2 separate regions of the Homo sapiens genome follow, and region 2 is linked to region 1. A link means that fine-mapping ties the variant in region 1 to the expression of a gene that starts in the linked region. Tissue or cell type: anterior cingulate cortex. Region 1 holds a variant in brackets; the other region holds the start of a gene. All regions are shown on one strand. Distances are from middle to middle.

Region 1 (8,183 bases):
GCAGAGACCATGCAAAGCTGCAGACTTCCCGGCCATACTCTCAATTAACATCCCAATGGTCATGCGGGATGGAAAACCATGGGGATTGAACAGAATGTCTGGGACCATCCCACTCTCAGTAAAAGGCATGTCCTCAGCCGGCCACAATCTGCTTAAAATGCCCTTCTGCCCATGGCGACTGGCAAATTTATCTCCGATAGTTGGGTTCCGAGGCACTCTCATAGTGATGCAAACACACTTGAATTTTCCACTCCCAGTGTCATTACTGCACACTTTGATGTTATCCACAACACAATTTTCTTTACTCCTAGGAAAAAGTAAACCATATAAGGTCAACCTATTTGTTTTAACTTATGGAGATAAGTTTCATTGATATAATTAGTGCTTCATAAAGGATATTTGTAAAACTTTTTTTTTTTTTTTTTTTTTTATGATACAGGGTCTCACTCTGTTGCCCAGGCTGGAGTGCGGTGGTGCAATTACAGCTCACTGCAGCCTTGACTTTCCGGGTTCAAGCAATCCTCCCACCTCAGCCTCCTGAGTAGCTGGGACTACAGGTATATGCCACTAGGCCTGGCTAGTCTTTAAATTTTTTTTGTAGAGATAGGGCCCCACTACATTGCCCAGACTGATCATGAACTCCTGTGCTTAAGGAATCCTCCTGTTTTGGTCTCCCAAAGTGTTGGGATTGCAGGTGTGAACTACTGTGCCTGGCCTGCAAAACTCATTCTTACCTTTATTCTCCAATACAAACAGAGATGGTATGAATAGAGCTATTGGTGATATTCACTACAGAATTATGTTCATCTGAAAGAAAACTAGCAACAAAAGCAACTGAAAAATTATTATGAAAGCCTATTGAAATAAATTATATTGTAAAATAAGCTAAAATAAGACATTTCTAATAAGAGGTATGAGCTCAACATTTTGGCTAGGAAACATTGCTAACATTGTATGTGAGAAAGATGACAAAGTTTGGATAATACAGTTTTTAAAAAAAGCACAAATAGGCCAGGGATGGTGGCTCAGGCCTGTAATCCTAGCACTTTGGGAGGCTGAAGCAGGTGGATCACTTGAGCCCAGGAGTTCGAGACCTACCTGGGCAACATGGTGAAACCGTCTATACTAAAAATACAAAAAATTAGCTGGGCATGGTGGTCCATGCCTGGAGTCCCAGCTACTCAAAGGCTGAGGCGAGAGGATTGCTTGAGCCCGGGAGGTGGTGGTTGTAGTGAGCTGAGATCACTCCACTGCACTCCAGCCCGGCTGACACACTGAGACCCTGTCTCAAAACAAAAACAAAAACAAAAACAAAACAGCTTGGATACCCAAACTTACTTATAGTACATCACAAAACTTTCCCCGGTGTTGAGGTTGAGGTAGCTGTAATACGGATCTCCGTACTGCAGTTTTGCTCCTATAAACGGCAATCCATCGTCATCTAACTTCTGCAGAACGCGTGGGTCACCAGGTTTGATGCCAAACACCAGGCTACTATCTCCTTGTTTAATTTTTTCAGAGAGGTCTATGAACTCAGACTTGTAGACACTTCCATGGGCAAAGCCTCGTTCCCAAGAGGCCTTATTCACAATCTGTGAAGTAAAAGAATCGTTAAAAGACTGAGGCCAATTGAGGATTTTCAAAATAAAACTAGGTGGGACTATCATACTTGGTTTAGGATAACTGGCATCACATTTTAACTTTCCTCACATTTTCCAAATCACTGATACTAACTACAAAAACCCAGACATGGCTGGGCACGGTGGCTCACGCCTGTAATTCCAGCACTTTGGGAGGCCAAGGCAGGTGGATCACTTGAGGTCAGGAGTTCGAGACCAGCCTGGCCAACATGGTGAAACCCCATCTCTACTAAAAACACGAAAATTAGCCAGGCATGGTGATGGGTGCCTGTAGTCCCAGCTATTCGAGAGGCTGAGGCAGGAGAACTGCTTGAACCCAGAAGGTGGAGGTTGCAGTGAGCCAAGATCGTGCCACTGCACTCCAGCCTGGGCAACAGAGCGAGACTCCGTCTCAAAAATAAAAAACAAAAAACAAACAAACAAAAAACAAGAAAAACAAAAACCCAGGCACACAGAAATAGCTTAAAATCTAATCATACTTAAATATAAAAGGTAGATAGATCCAAAACCAAACTTCAAAATTTACTCATAATATGCACTCAAATATGCAAGACATACGTGTATCTGAATATTTAGTGGATATTCCTCAAGGCTTGCCCACTTTCAACTTAGACTAAGAACTAATCATTTAATAGAACATCACGTGCCAAATACTAGGTACTTGGGTACACAAAAATATTCCTTCAGTGATTTCACAGTAAACAAACAAGTTAAAAAATAAAAAGATTGGAACAACATTTCCTGGTAAAACTTACCATGGCATCTTCCATATCATAGCCAGTGTAAGAAATCACAGCAACGATGGCATTGGTCCCAATTGGATAGTTATCCATGTCATAATAATCATACATGGAGGGTCTCACCAAGGGACTCTGAGGAGTCTGAAGACGATACAGTTTGTTATCCGATCGGTCTTGATAAGTGAGAAGTGGAAAGCCCATAGTTTGCTTACCTACATGGAGAAAAAACATCTTAGCATTTTCTGCTGCTTTCATCTTGATTATAGGTGTGATACGCAACACTGGAAACAACTAAATATCCATCAGAGGAAAATGAACAAATAAATAGTCATGGTAGTTATGCTTACTTTAGACTAATACATAAGCTGTGAAAATGAAGTAAACCTAAATGTATCAACGTGACCAGACCAGGAAAACCATGCTGAGTGGGAGAAAGTGCAGACTGACATTTAATATGATACGATTTATGTGTATTTGCAACACACCCCAAACAATTCTATACTTAGTTTATGGATACATGTATGATGTAATAAAAGCTTTAGAAGGGGACAGAAAGGAAGTACGCAAATTACAGGCTATCACTACTCGGGGAAGAAAAGGGGATAGGAATTATTACGTAATTAGATTACTTTCTTACAGCGGAATATGTATTTAATTCTAAGTAGTGGAGCATGGGGTGAGATTCCTCTGTGTACTACCTCACAGTACAGAGAATCATTTCACGACAAAATGATTTTAAAATATAAATACATACAAGTGAAATTTTTAAAAAAATTATAGACTTAGAGCTTCCAGTAATAAAGGGCTACTCTTACTAGACCACCCTCA[A/G]CACATAAGTATGAGACGCAGACCCCCAACTACACATACAGCACTGGAGAGTAACCAAAAGCTGTCAGAAGCTGAGAAGAATTTTTACTTGGACAAAAGGAACACACTGGGTGAATTTCCAGGTTTTTAAGTATTTATGTATTTATTTTTGCCTTATGGCCCAGTGTGGCAGCTACAACTTAGATAGAAACCCACAATCTTACTGGCTTGAAGAACCAAGAAATAGAGTTCTGAGCATGACAACAATTGGGAAGGGGGAACATTTCAGAAATGAGAGAACCACAAAGGGAGACCCTTAAATTCAGCATATAAATTGGGTCCGAATCTTTGGTGGACTCCTGAACTATGCATGCATGGGACAGATCACAGCAGCCCACCTAAGGCTGAAGAATGTACTTCAACTGCCACGTTCACCAAGTTAAGTACCAGTGAAAACTAAAAACCAATCCTCTTCCCCTGGAGAATTTTTGGTGACATGCACTGAACCAGGTGATGGACTGTGTATTAAGAAGGAAAGACATAAAATGAAAAAAATTAAAATGTAATTGAAGGCCAAACACCACACTAAAAACAAACAAAACCAATCCTCTTCAGAGGACCCTAACAGGATCCAGGGTTTAAAACATACTCCTCGCAATGTTCATAATACAATCCGATATTACTGGGCATACAAAGAAATGGTGAAACTTGACTTATACTCAAAGAGACTGATACTAAGATGACCCAGACATTGGAATCTGCAGATAATGATTTTACAACACCCATCATATAAAACTATGTTCAAAATATAAAGGAAAACATGCCCACAATGAATGAAGATAAGAAATCTTAGAGAAGAAAGAAACTATAAAAAAAGAAACAAGTCAGGCCAGGCGCAATGGCTCATGCCTGTAATCCCAGCACTTTGGGAGGCTGAGGCAGGCAGATCATTTGAGGTCAGGAGTTTGAGACCAGCCTGGCCAACATGATAAAACCCTGCCTCTACTAAAAATACAAAAAATTAGCTGGGCATGGTGGCACATGCCTGTAATCTCAGCTACTCAGGAGGTAGAGGCAGGAAAATTGCTTGAACTGGGGAGGCAGAGGTTGCAGTGAGCCAAGATCGTGCCACTGCACTCCAGCCTGGGTGACAGAGCGATACCCTGTCTCAAAAAAAAAAAAAAGAAAAAAAAAAGAAACAAGTAGAAGTGCTGGACTTGAAAAATACAGGCATGCACTGCATAACAATGTTTTAGTCAATGCAGGATGGCATATATACTATGGTGATCCCATATTTTTACTGTACCTTTTCTATGTTTAGCTACACAAATCCTTGCCATTGTCTTACAACTGTAGACAGTACACAGTACAGTTACATGCCACCCAGGTTTGTAGCCTAGGAGCAACAGGCTATACCATATACTAGGTGTGTAGTAGTCTCTGCCATCTAGGTTTGTGTAAGTTCACTCTATGATGTTCACACTACGACAAAATCACATATGACTCACTTCTTCGAAGGTATCCCTGTCGTTAAGGGCACATGACTGTAAGCAAAAATTCAGTAGAAGACAGAATAAAAAGTGACTGTGATAATAGGTCAATAAAAATAATCCAATCTGGGCCAGGTGCAGTGGCTCACACCTGTAACCCCAGCATTTTGGGAGGCTGAGGCAGGCAGATCACTTCAGGTCAGGAGTTTGAGACCAGCCAGGCCAACATGGTGAAACCGTATCTCTACTAAAACACAAAAATTAGCTGGGCATGGTGGTGTGTGCCTGTAATCCCAGCTCCTCAGGAGGCTGAGGCAGGAGAATTTATTGAACATGGGAGGCAGAGGTTGCAGTGAGCCGAGATTGTACCACTGCACTCCAGTCTGGGCAACAAAGTGAGACTCCATCTCGGGAAAAAAAAAAAAAGATCCAATCTGAAGAAAATAAAGAAAAAAGAGAACAGAAACTCAATGTCTTATGGAACAATATCAAAAGGTTTAAATATATGAATAACTGATAGAAGAGGAGGAAAGAGAGAAAAGGATAGGAGCAATGTTTTTAAAAATAATGACAGAAGAGTTTAGCAATTTAATTAAACTGAAAAAAAACAAAATTTGAGGCCGGGCGCAGTGGCTCACGCCTGTAATACAGCACTTTGGGAGGCCAAAGTGGGCAGGTCACCTGAGGTCAGGAGTTCGAGACCAGCCTTGCCAACATGGTGAAACCCCGTCTCTACTAAAAATACAAAAATTAGCTGGGTGTGGTGGTGAGTCCCTGTAGACCCAGCTACTTGGAAGGCTGAAGCAGGAGAATCACTTGAACCCAGGAGACAGAGGTTGCAGTAAGCCGAGATCACACCACTGCACTCCAGCCTAGGCGACAGAGCGAGACTCTGTCTCAAAAAAAAAAAAAAAGAAACACACTATATTCAGAAGACTGCTGCCTTCTAACTAGAAATGACAGAGACTAAGAAGAGACAGTGTAACAACAACTTTTAAGTGTTGGAAGAAAAATAACTGTCAACTCAGAATTGTATATCCAGTGAAAGATTCCTTCAAGTGAAGCAAAATAAAGACATTTTCAGATAAATGAAAACAAAGAGAATTTGTGGCCAGCAACCTGCACTATAAAAAAATGCTAAAGGAAGATTATCAGGCTGAAGGAAAATTGTATACAATGAAAACTTGAATCTTGCAGCAGGAATGAAGAGGACTGGAAGTGATAAATATGCGGGTGACTATAATTGCTTGTATTCTTCAAAAAATCAAATAATAAGACCTCAGGCACACCCAAATCTATGGACATTCTATACCTTTTTCTTCAAAAATGTCAATGTCAAAGACAAAGAATGTTTAAAGATCTGTCATAAATTACAGGAAACTAAATAGACATGCCAACTAAATACAATGAGTGATCCTGGGCTGGTTGCTTGTGGCACAGAAAAAAGAAAAACTTGCCATAAACTGTATTTTTGGAACAAATGGTCAGCATATGTAAATAAGGACAATAAAAGAGTGTGCTAGTATCAAGTTTACTTTCCTGATTGTGACTGTAACATCATCCCTCTTCCTTACCCATCTGGCATTGGTACATGTTCCGTGGACTCTGGTTGTGATCAGAGAAAGGGATGAAGTTGGCAATCACACTCAGCAGGCTGTGTGGAAAGAGTTCCTGGTGTGTGGTAACTCCAGCAAAAACTTCATCCTCAAAGATAGCGACATTCATGAAGATCTGGAAGAGCAGATGTCCAAGGCACAAAATAACTGCAACTGGTTACACATTTACTCTTACCATTTCTCAGAGTTCAGTACTCAAAGACTCAAGAGAAAACCATCCCCACCCAGCATCATGAGTGCTGAAGGGATCAACTGGGAAGCACAGGGAAGCGACCAGTTAGAAATACCACTTGCTTTACGTATCTCACTCTAAAACTACCCCAGACCAATTGTGAAGGGGAATAGGAAGAAAAATTTTTAAGTAGCACAAAGCCTATAATTTTGCAACTGTAAATATGTAGGCAAAGACTGAGTGTGAATCTAATGGAATGTTTTCACTTCACGGCTGAGGCAGAGCCAGGTACAAAGGAGTTCTGGGAGCTAGATAAGATGGGAGGCAGGTAATGTGACCACCAGCCCTCTCTCAGGTTCTGTGGAGTGAGATCAGACATGGAAATTGCTCTGTGCTGATCATAGAGGAGGTGGAAAGTCTGACTTTCTTTCAAATGTCCAACTGTTGTTGTAACATTAACAACCCTTTTAAAAAAGGAAGAGTTAAGTCTCTGAAAGTTGTATACTATACAAACAAGCACATACACTCATCCATCACACATATGTATTTACCTGTTCCATAGTTCCAATTAGCTCTTCTTTGCCCAATGCTAAGTTCTGCACAGGCCGTACCAGTCTACAAGGAGTGGTAAAAAGGAACAATCCTGGGTACAGACTTGGTTTTCCTGTCATGGGTATAAGGACCACTTCCATCCAGGGAGGAATTCTTTTCTCTCTCAACACCTGTTTTTAACAAAAACAGAGTTTAACAAACCTGTCCCAAGGCCATGGCTGTCGCTGCCAGTCTTATGCCCCATGGAATACCACTCATCCACACTCAGCCATGGTAAAAGCCCTACTTCCTTGGGTGCTCACCCCAGCTAGTAGGCAAATCACTAACTACTGAGGCTAAGGATAAAGCACACCATGAATGCACGTGTCGATACACTAAAGGAAATTCTGTCCTCTGTGATCTAAAATACAGTAGATTACTGGTTTTATTTGTAAATTTAATAAACCAAAAACTCATGGGTGGGCCGGGGGTGGCTTATACCTGTAATCCCAGCACTTTAGGAGGCCAAAGTGGGTGGATCACTTGAGCCCAGAGGTTCAAGACCAGCCTGGGCAACATGATGAAACCCCGTCTCTACAAAAATTAAAAAATTACCTGAGTGTGGTGGTACGTGCCTGTAGTCCCAGCTAATCGGGAGGCTGAGGTGGGAGGATCACTTGAGCCCAGGAGGTTGAGGCTGCAGTGAGCCATGATCATGCCACTGCACTCCAGCCTGGGTGACAGAGTGACCCTGTCTCAAAAACAAAACAAAAAAACTCCAACAAACTCCTGGGTGAAAGGAGAAATAAAAACCTAAATTACAGAAACCTGAAAACAACAACAACAACAACAACAACAACAAACCCATGTGTCAGAACTCATGGGGATTCACAGCTAGATGCATTATCATTAAAAATGAGAGAATGTTTGGTGGAGGGGGACACGGGGAGATGTTGGTCAAAGAGTATAAAGCTTCAGTTATGCAACAAAATTAAGTTTCTGGAGATCTCATGTACAGCATGTGACTATAGTTAAGAATACTATATTGCATGCTTGAAATTTACTAAGAGAGCAGATCTTAAGTGTCCTCATCCTCCGATGCTCCACAATGCTAACCAAAAAAAAGAGAATGAAAATAAATTCTCTATAAAAAAGATAAAATCTGAGACTAATGAGGCAGGTAGCTC
Region 2 (8,183 bases), 28 kb after region 1:
GGCGTGAACCCGGGAGGCAGAGCCTGCAGTGAGCAGAGATCACGCCACTGCACTCCAGCCTGGGCGACAGAGCGAGACTCCGTCTCAAAAAAAAAAAAAAAAAAAAAAAAAAAAAAAAAAAGCTACCTCCAGTCTACTCATAACTTCACTAAATACTTAAAACCACAAAGCATTATTAGTACAAGATTGTTTTGAGTGACCACATGTGTCAGAGACTGTAGTAGGCTCTAGGGATACAGCTGTGAACAGAACAAAATTCCTGTTCTCTGAACCAAGAGCCTTGTGTATTCTTAACTTGTCTATGTGCATAGCAAGACAAATGGGACTACTGCTAATAGAGCAAGGATACGGAAACATCCTTTAGGATTTAAGACTAGATGCTTAATGTACAATGGCAACGTCAAACTGAAGCCAGAGCCATGCAAAGGAAAAGATGGTGGCCAGGCTGGGTTTCCCCTTCCACAGAAGTTACTTCTTTGTACCATTCTGTAGGGGAAGCTTTGCTGTTCTGAGGAAGGGGCATCACCAAGCTCTCCTATATATTAATTACAAGCAACCTCCTAGACTTAGTCTTAGAATAATGAAAATGAAAAAATGGAACCAAGAAAGAATACCAAGGAGGTTCTCCACCTTCACGTGAGTTAACTTACCTTTTCTAAATTTTAAAATGTTATCTAAAGCTGGTATTATTTTAGAAATTCATATTTTATTTAAAAATAAAAGCCAGATGCAGTGGCTTATACCTGTAATCCCAATATTTGGGAGACCGAGAGAGGAGGACTACTTGAGCTCAGGAGTTTGAGACCAGGCTGGGCCACATAGGGAGACCCCGTCTCTACAAAAAATAAAAATAAAAAAATTAGCCGGGCATAGTGGTGCACGCCTGTGGTCCCAGCTACTCAAGAGGTTGACGTGGGAGGATCACTTGATCCTGGAAGGTCGAGGCTGCAGTGAGCTATAACCATGCCACTGCATTCCAGCCTAGGTGACAAAGTGAGATCCTGTCTCAAAAAAAAAAACAGAATGAAGTTAAAAAAAGAGAGATTAGACAATTTGCTTTCTCAAGACGCAGCTGCACTATTTAGAAGGAAATACAGTGAACTGTCATTATTCATAATAGTTATGTTCTATACAGTTGCCATAAACACTGAATTAGCCAATACTGAACCACTGCTCCTAGGGTAAATACATGGTTAGCTTCCTGCGAGCCTCTGGTCACATTTCATCAACTGATCAACACACAATCTTGTATTATGTGTGTTTCTGTTTAAGGACAGCTTATTTAATACATATTATTGAGTCCGTAACTCATGCCTGAACAAAGCCTATGATTTCATCCACTGATCAATACACAACCTTGCATTATGTGGGTTTCTGTTTAAGGACAGCTTATCTAATATATATTATTGAGTCCCTAACGCATGCCTGAACAAAGCCTATGTTAAATGCATGTATTAATATTTTCCCCTAAAGGCACAGCACAGCCTTCTTGTGCTTAGGAACTTTATACAGAACTTTAATACTTTAATACTTTGCTTGGGGGACATTTTAAACAGCAAAATCACCAACAAAAAGCACAAAACACGGCACTAAATAGATAGTGAAGACAACCTCTGTTTATAGTTTAAGAACTTAAAACAAGAAGGCCGAGCATCACCTTGTTAGATCTCAGCTGGGAAAATGGACACTGAGCAACTCAACTTTTTTGCTGCTTCTGGGCATGGTGCTTTTGGAGTAGAAGTAAATTTTAGTGAGTAGGTGAATTTGCAAATATGGAATCCCCAAGTAATAAAAATCAATTGTATTTTGAAAAGACAGACACATAAATTCTGACTCACAGAAAGGAGGAATTCACTCCAAAGAAACTTGGCAAAATTATGTTTTGTAAGTAAAAAATATGATAACTATTTTTTCCCTTGGCTTTATAAGTATTAGTTATTTATGTTACTGTGTTTTACAGAACTTTTTCAAATACTATATTATTATAGTCCTAGCTAAGTTGTGGCATCATTTTCTATGCAGGGCCAAATTTTCTTCATCTACTTCAACCAAAACAATTATCACAAGGGACTGAATGCACAAGCAGACATGAGAATCCAGCTGTCTTTTCATTAAGCCAGACATTAAAAAGATTTTTAATAATGCAATTCATCTAACTTCTTTTTTGCTTTGGAAAATATTTTTCTTAAAAATGTTAACATATAATTGGTTTATTTATTTATGTATTTATTTTTTTGGGAGAGTCTCACTCTGTCACCCAGGCTGGAATGCAGTGGTGCAATCTTGGCTCACTGCAACCTCCGCCTCCCAGGTTCAAGCGATTCTCGTGCCTCAGCCTCCTGAGTAGCTGGGATTACAGACATGTGCCACCATGCCCGGCTAATTTTTGTATTTTTTAGTAGAGATGGGGTTTCACCAGGTTGGCCAGGCTGGTCTGGAACTCCTGACCTCAAGTGATCCACCCGCCTTGACCTCCCAAAGTGCAGGGATTACAGTCAAGAGCCACCACACCCAGCCGACTGGCTTATTTTTAAATTAGTGCTTTTCTAAAATTTCTCAATTGGATTTTTTTTTTTTAAAGACAGGTCTCACTCTGTTACCGAGGATGGAGTGCAGCGGCACAATCATAGCTCATTGCAGCCTCAAATTCCTGGGTTCAACTTATCCTCCCACCTCAGCCTCCCGAGTAGCTGGGACCAGCTACTTGGGTGCGCACCACCATGCCCCACTAATTTTTAAATTTTTGTGGAGATGGGGTTTCACTATGTTATCCAAGCTGGTCTTGAAATCCTGGGCTCAAGTCATCCTTCTGCCTTGGCCTCCCAAAGTCCTGGATTACAGGTGTGAGCCACTGCACCCAGCCCGATTAACTTTTAATTAGGAATTTTTTCTCACAGACATGATACTGTAACAATCCAGGCACAATACAAATAACCCCCACCCCTCTAGTCTTTCTAAACAATAAATCTTAATGGCTCCCATATTATTTGCCGAATAGAGTTCAAGAATCAGACTGGCAATCAAAGCTCTCCACATTATCTGTATCCCTATCTCCCACAACACAAATCTTACCCAACAAAACCACAGGTAGGGTCCCCGAAGCATGTGACTCTGCTCTACTCTTCCCCTGGACGAAATGCACGTTTCTCACTTCTTGAACTCATCTAATCCTGCCCTTTCTCAAACTCCTGGATTAGTTGCGCCGCCCATAGGCTCCCGCAGTAGCCCACACAATCCCTTGGCAGAGCAGTTCTCAAGAACATTGGCATGCACTGCTTTCATTATCTTCACCCCTTCAACCCCCAAACACGACAGGGAGCACTTAAATGCATGAACTGTCTCGTACACGGGACTGCCTCCTCCACATCCTCTGAGCCTAGTGCCTGGAGACACTGGGGATGCTTACTAAACGAAGCTTTCCCCCACCATACTCACTTGAATTCTGCTACCATTACTCTACGCTAATAATGCAATTACACTTTTCGATTCAATCTTGCTTTCATGACTCATTTATACCTTCCTCGGCACCTGCTTAATTCATAACAAATGACGAGTAGTTTCTCTCTTTAAAGCTCTAAGAGAAGGAAACTGAAGGATAACCTTGAACATTACACTGTACCTACAAATACGTTCGGGATCTTTCGAGGTACGTTTTGGAGAGGTAAGTCTTCAAGTGATATAAAGCCGTGTGCATTGTGAAGCACATCCCCAGATAAGCCACTTCCTCACTCTCACAGCACCCCGAAACTGTCCAAACTACGGTTCACAATCACTTTTCACTCCAGAATCACGAATACATCTCTTAAGACGCCTCGACTCCAAGTCTCACGAAGGCCAGTACCGCGTCCTGTTTAACATGTTGTGCTCTCCCGCTTACCCACCAAGCCTGTCAGGATCAAGGAGCACATGCATCTGGGGTCATACTGTGACCTCCCAGCCACCTCCCTGGGATTGGCCTCGCCGCGGCAAGGGCGCCGGCGGACGCCGCGCTCACCTGCACCGCGAGGCCGAGACCCTCGTGCACAGCGTAGTTGAAGGACTCCACGTGCGCCCGCGTCAGCTCCTGCAACGCTGCCTTTTGCTGTTCCCGCGGGATTCCATAAGAGGGGTCAGTCAAGTGCTTTAGGCTAGGCCCGCTGGGCAGGTTCCGCCACCGGCTGCCAGGATCCATGTGGCCACCTGCACACCGGACGCCAGTCTCTCGGTACACGCCGGACGCCAGTCTCTCGGTACACGCCGGAAGTAGTGGCCGCAGTCCCGTTTCCGCAGCCTGCTGGGAAATGTAGTTCCCTCTCGTTCCACCCGCCCTAGGCCCTGCGGTTTCGGTTTCTCGGGGTCAACGTAGAACCAAAAACGTCGAGTGAACGGGCCGATTAAGGCCGTGTCCAGCCAGAGCGTGGCGGGCCCTCCCTTTCTCCCATATTCCGCCCCACTCATCTCCCCGCTCGCGAAAGATGCCGCAGGTGGAAACCCGCTCCCCGCCCAGTTGAGCATGTGACCTCTTTGGCTCTCATTGGCTCAGTCAATTAGGATCGGAGGAGAGCGGTCTTCTCAGGCTCTCTTCTGTTTCCCTTCACCTGTTCCCAGTCCCACGCTGATGCCGACCCTGGGGAGTCATCCGGCCAAAGTCGTTGCTTCAACGAAAAAGCGGATGCCGGGCCCCGGGCTGACTCTCTACCCAACTCCTAACTCGCGAGGCTCACCCCTGGGAAGCCAAGGAGTGGTCGGGCCCCGCTAACCTCGTCGCATCTTCCGGACTGGAGGCCTGGGGGAGGCCTGGGGAAGGAGGTGGGAGAGGAGTCGGGCGGTCCCGGATGGAGGGGATGGGGCAGCGGGGCGTCCAACTGGATTTACAGCCTGAATTTCTTTTGCGTTCCTGTGAGCCCCTTACCTCCCCAGAATACTGATTAATCAGGGAATGCCTGCTGGTTTTTCAACTTTATTGTGTTTGTGTTTAACAGCTATATTGCGTTATAACTGGCATACAATAAACCACACATTTAAAGTGTACGCGTTAAGTTTTGACCTATGTATACAACCATGCAGCCATCACCACAATTAAAACAATGAATTAAACCACCACTACCCAGTATCCTCCTGCCCCTGATAGTCCCTCCTTACTGTCAACTTCCCCTTTCCTAGTTCAGCTGGTACTTTTCATTCCTATATCACTTTTTATAAAAAATTCGAGCCGGGAGTCTGTTGCACAGGCTGGTCTTGAACTTCCGGCCTCTAGTGATCCTCTCGCCTTGCCTCCCTAAATGCTGGGATTACAGGCATGAGCCACCGCGCGCGCCCGGCCAACTGAGTAGTTGTAGTTCTTTATATAGCCTATACTAGTCCTTGTCAGATCCATGATTTGCAAATATTTTTCTCCCATTCTGTGGGTTTTTACTTTCTTGCTGGTGTCCTTTGAAGCAAAACGTTTTAATTTTGAAGTGTAGTTTTTTTCTTTTGTTGCCTGTCTTTTTATATCATATCTAAGACATCATTGTGTAATCCAAGGTCATGAGGATTTAAAAAAAAATTTATGGGTACATAATTAGCATATTTATGAGGTATATGAGATGTTTTCATATAGGCATACGATGTAATCATCACAGGAGGGTAGATGGGGTTTCCATCACCTCAAGCATTCATCATTTCTGTCATGAACATTCCAATTGTACTTCCTCAGTTATTTTTGAAGGTACAACAAATTATTGCTGACTGCAGTCACCCTGTTGTGCTATCAAATACTAGATATTTTTCAATCATGGGGATTTTCACCTATATTTTCTACTAAGAGTTTTGTAGTTTCAACTCTTACATTTAAGTCTTTGACTCATTCTGAGCTAATTTTTGTATATGGTGTGAGAAAGGCATATCACTTTATTCCTTTGCATGTGGATATCCAGTTGTCCTAACACCATTTGTTAAAAAGACTATTCTTTCCCTCATCAAATTGTCTTGGCCTCCTTGTCGAAAATCAGTTCACTATAGATGCAAGGGTTTATTTTTGACTCTCAGTTCTATTCTCTTGATCTGTATGTCTATCTACATTTATCTGTATATCTGTCTACAAACTACACAGATTTGATTAATACAGCTTTGTAATAAATTTTGAAATCAGGAAGTGCACATCCTCCAACTTTGTTCTTCTTTCTCCAGATTTATTTGATCCTTTGTATTTCAATATGGATTTTAGCGTCAGCTTAGCTTGTCAATTTCTTTCTCTTTTTTTTTTTTTTTTGTTTTTTGTTTTTTTGAGACAGAGTTTTGCTCTTGTTGCTGAGGATGGAGTGCAGTGGCATGATCTTGGCTCACTGCAACCTCTACCTCCTGCCTCAGCCTCCCAAATAGCTGAGATTACAGGCATGCACCACCATGCCTGGCTAATTTTGTATTTTTAATAGAGACAGGGTTTTACCATGTTGGCCAAGCTGGTCTTGAATTCCTGACCTCAAGTAATCCATCTGCCTTGGCCGCCCAAAGTGCTGGGATTACAGGTGTGAGCCACCACACCCGGCCCAGCTTGTCAATTTCTGCAAAGAAGGCTGAGATTCTTGATCAGGATTGTGTTCAATTGGTAGATCAATTTGGGGCCTATTTTCATCCTAACAATAATTATCTCCCAATCCATAAACATGGGATGTCTTTCCATTTATTTAGGTGTTCTTTAATTTCTTTCAGAGATGTTTTGTAGTATTTGGTGTAGAAATGAACTTTTGTTAAATTTATTCCTAAGTATTTCATTCTTTTTGGTGTTGATATAAATGGAATTGTTTTCTTAACTTCAAATTGTTTGTAATATGTAGAAATACCATTGAGTTTTGTATATTGATCTTGTGTCTGGCAATCTTGCTAAACTCTTTATTAGTTCTAACAGCGTAAGTGGATTTCTTAGGACTTTTTCTATATGGTATCTTGTCGTCTGCAAAGAGAGATCATCATACTTCTCCCTTTCCAATCTGAATGCGCAGTCTTCTTTCCTTCCTTTTGTCGAATTGCTCTGTCTAGAACATTTAATACAATGTTGAAGTGACAAGAATAAATATACTTGTTTTGTGCCTGATATTGGGAAGAAAGCTCCCAACTGGAGCTTTCACATCACCATTAATATGATGTAGGCTGTGGGTTTTTCCAAAGATGCTCTTTATCATGTTGAGGAAGTAATTTATTTCTAGTTTGTTGAAAGGTTTTTTCCAAGAAAGAGTGTTGTGTATTGCCAAATGCTTTTTCAGTGTATATTGAAATGATCATGTGCTTTTTGTCCTCTTTTTTCTATTAAAGTGGTATATTATATTAAGTAAATTTTGTATGTTAAAAAAACCTTGCATTCTTTCTTTTCCCCTTCTCAACGTTTATTTTAGAATCAGGGGGGTACATGTGCGAATTTGTTACAAAGGTATATTGGGTGATGCTGAGGTCTGGGGTATGGTTGAACCTGTCACCCAGGTAGCGAGCACAGTATCCAATAGGTAGTTTTCAATCTTTGCTCCCCTCCTTCTCTCCTGGCTCTAGTAGTCCCCAGTGTCTGCTGTTCCCATCTTTTTTTTTTTTTTTTTTTTTTTTAGACAGAGTCTCTGTCACCCAGGCTGGAGTGCAGTGGCGCAATCTCGGCTCACTGCAACCTCCGCCTTCCAGGTTCAAGTGATTCCCCTGCTTCAGCCTCCTGAGTAGCTGGGATTACAGGCGCCTGCTACCACGCCCGGCTAATTTTTTGTATTTTTAGTGGAGACGGGGTTTCACCATATTAGCCAGGATGGTCTTGATCTCCGGACCTCATGATCCGCCCGCCTTGGCCTCCCAAAGTGCTGGGATGACAGGCGTGAGCCACCGCGACTGGCCTCTTCCCAACTTTATGTCCATGTGTACCCAATGTTTAGCTCCCACTTTTTAATTTTTTTGAGACAGGACTTGCTCTGTCACCTAGGACAGAGAGCAGTTGTGCGATCTCTGCTCACTGCAACCTCCTCTTCTCAGGTTCAAGCGATTCTTGTGCCTCAGCCATCAGAGTAGCTGGGATTACAGGCATGCACCACCATGCCTGGCTAATTCTTGTATTTTTTATAGAGACCAGATTTAATCATGTTGCCCAGGCTGGACTCAAACTCCTGGCCTCATTTGATCTGCCCACCTTGGCCTCCTAAAAGTGCTGAGATTATAGGAGTGAGCCACCGTGCTCAGCCTAGCTTCCACTT

Alleles and levels. Alleles are on the strand shown, and positions count from the first base shown. SD is a standard deviation of normalised expression in the study named.
For the expression in anterior cingulate cortex of the gene that starts at base 4,201 in region 2, allele A in region 1 goes with a lower level than allele G (large effect, 1.1 SD a copy in GTEx).

The links. PIP is the estimated chance that this variant, and not a neighbour inherited with it, causes the effect.
Region 2: POLR1B starts here. The variant in region 1 is fine-mapped to the expression of POLR1B in anterior cingulate cortex (GTEx, PIP 0.92).

The regions. Positions count from the first base shown.
Region 1 is chr2:112,566,971-112,575,153 of GRCh38, reverse strand. It overlaps POLR1B (RNA polymerase I subunit B), which reads right to left. Exons shown (of 15, transcript NM_019014.6): 11 at 7,017-7,187; 12 at 6,252-6,408; 13 at 2,396-2,592; 14 at 1,339-1,592; 15 at 1-307. Among named protein-coding and RNA genes, the nearest start is that of CHCHD5, 14 kb to the left of the region's middle. The variant A/G (reference allele first, on the strand shown) is at 3,209.
Region 2 is chr2:112,538,483-112,546,665 of GRCh38, reverse strand. It overlaps POLR1B (RNA polymerase I subunit B), which reads right to left and starts at 4,201. Exons shown (of 15, transcript NM_019014.6): 1 at 3,995-4,201. The coding sequence starts at 4,171. TTL (tubulin tyrosine ligase) reads right to left here. Exons shown (of 7, transcript NM_153712.5): 7 at 4,927-8,183. It overlaps LOC105373562 (a long non-coding RNA gene), which reads left to right and starts at 4,454. Exons shown (of 2, transcript NR_136321.1): 1 at 4,454-4,463; 2 at 4,588-5,010. RefSeq lists an enhancer at 4,169-4,318.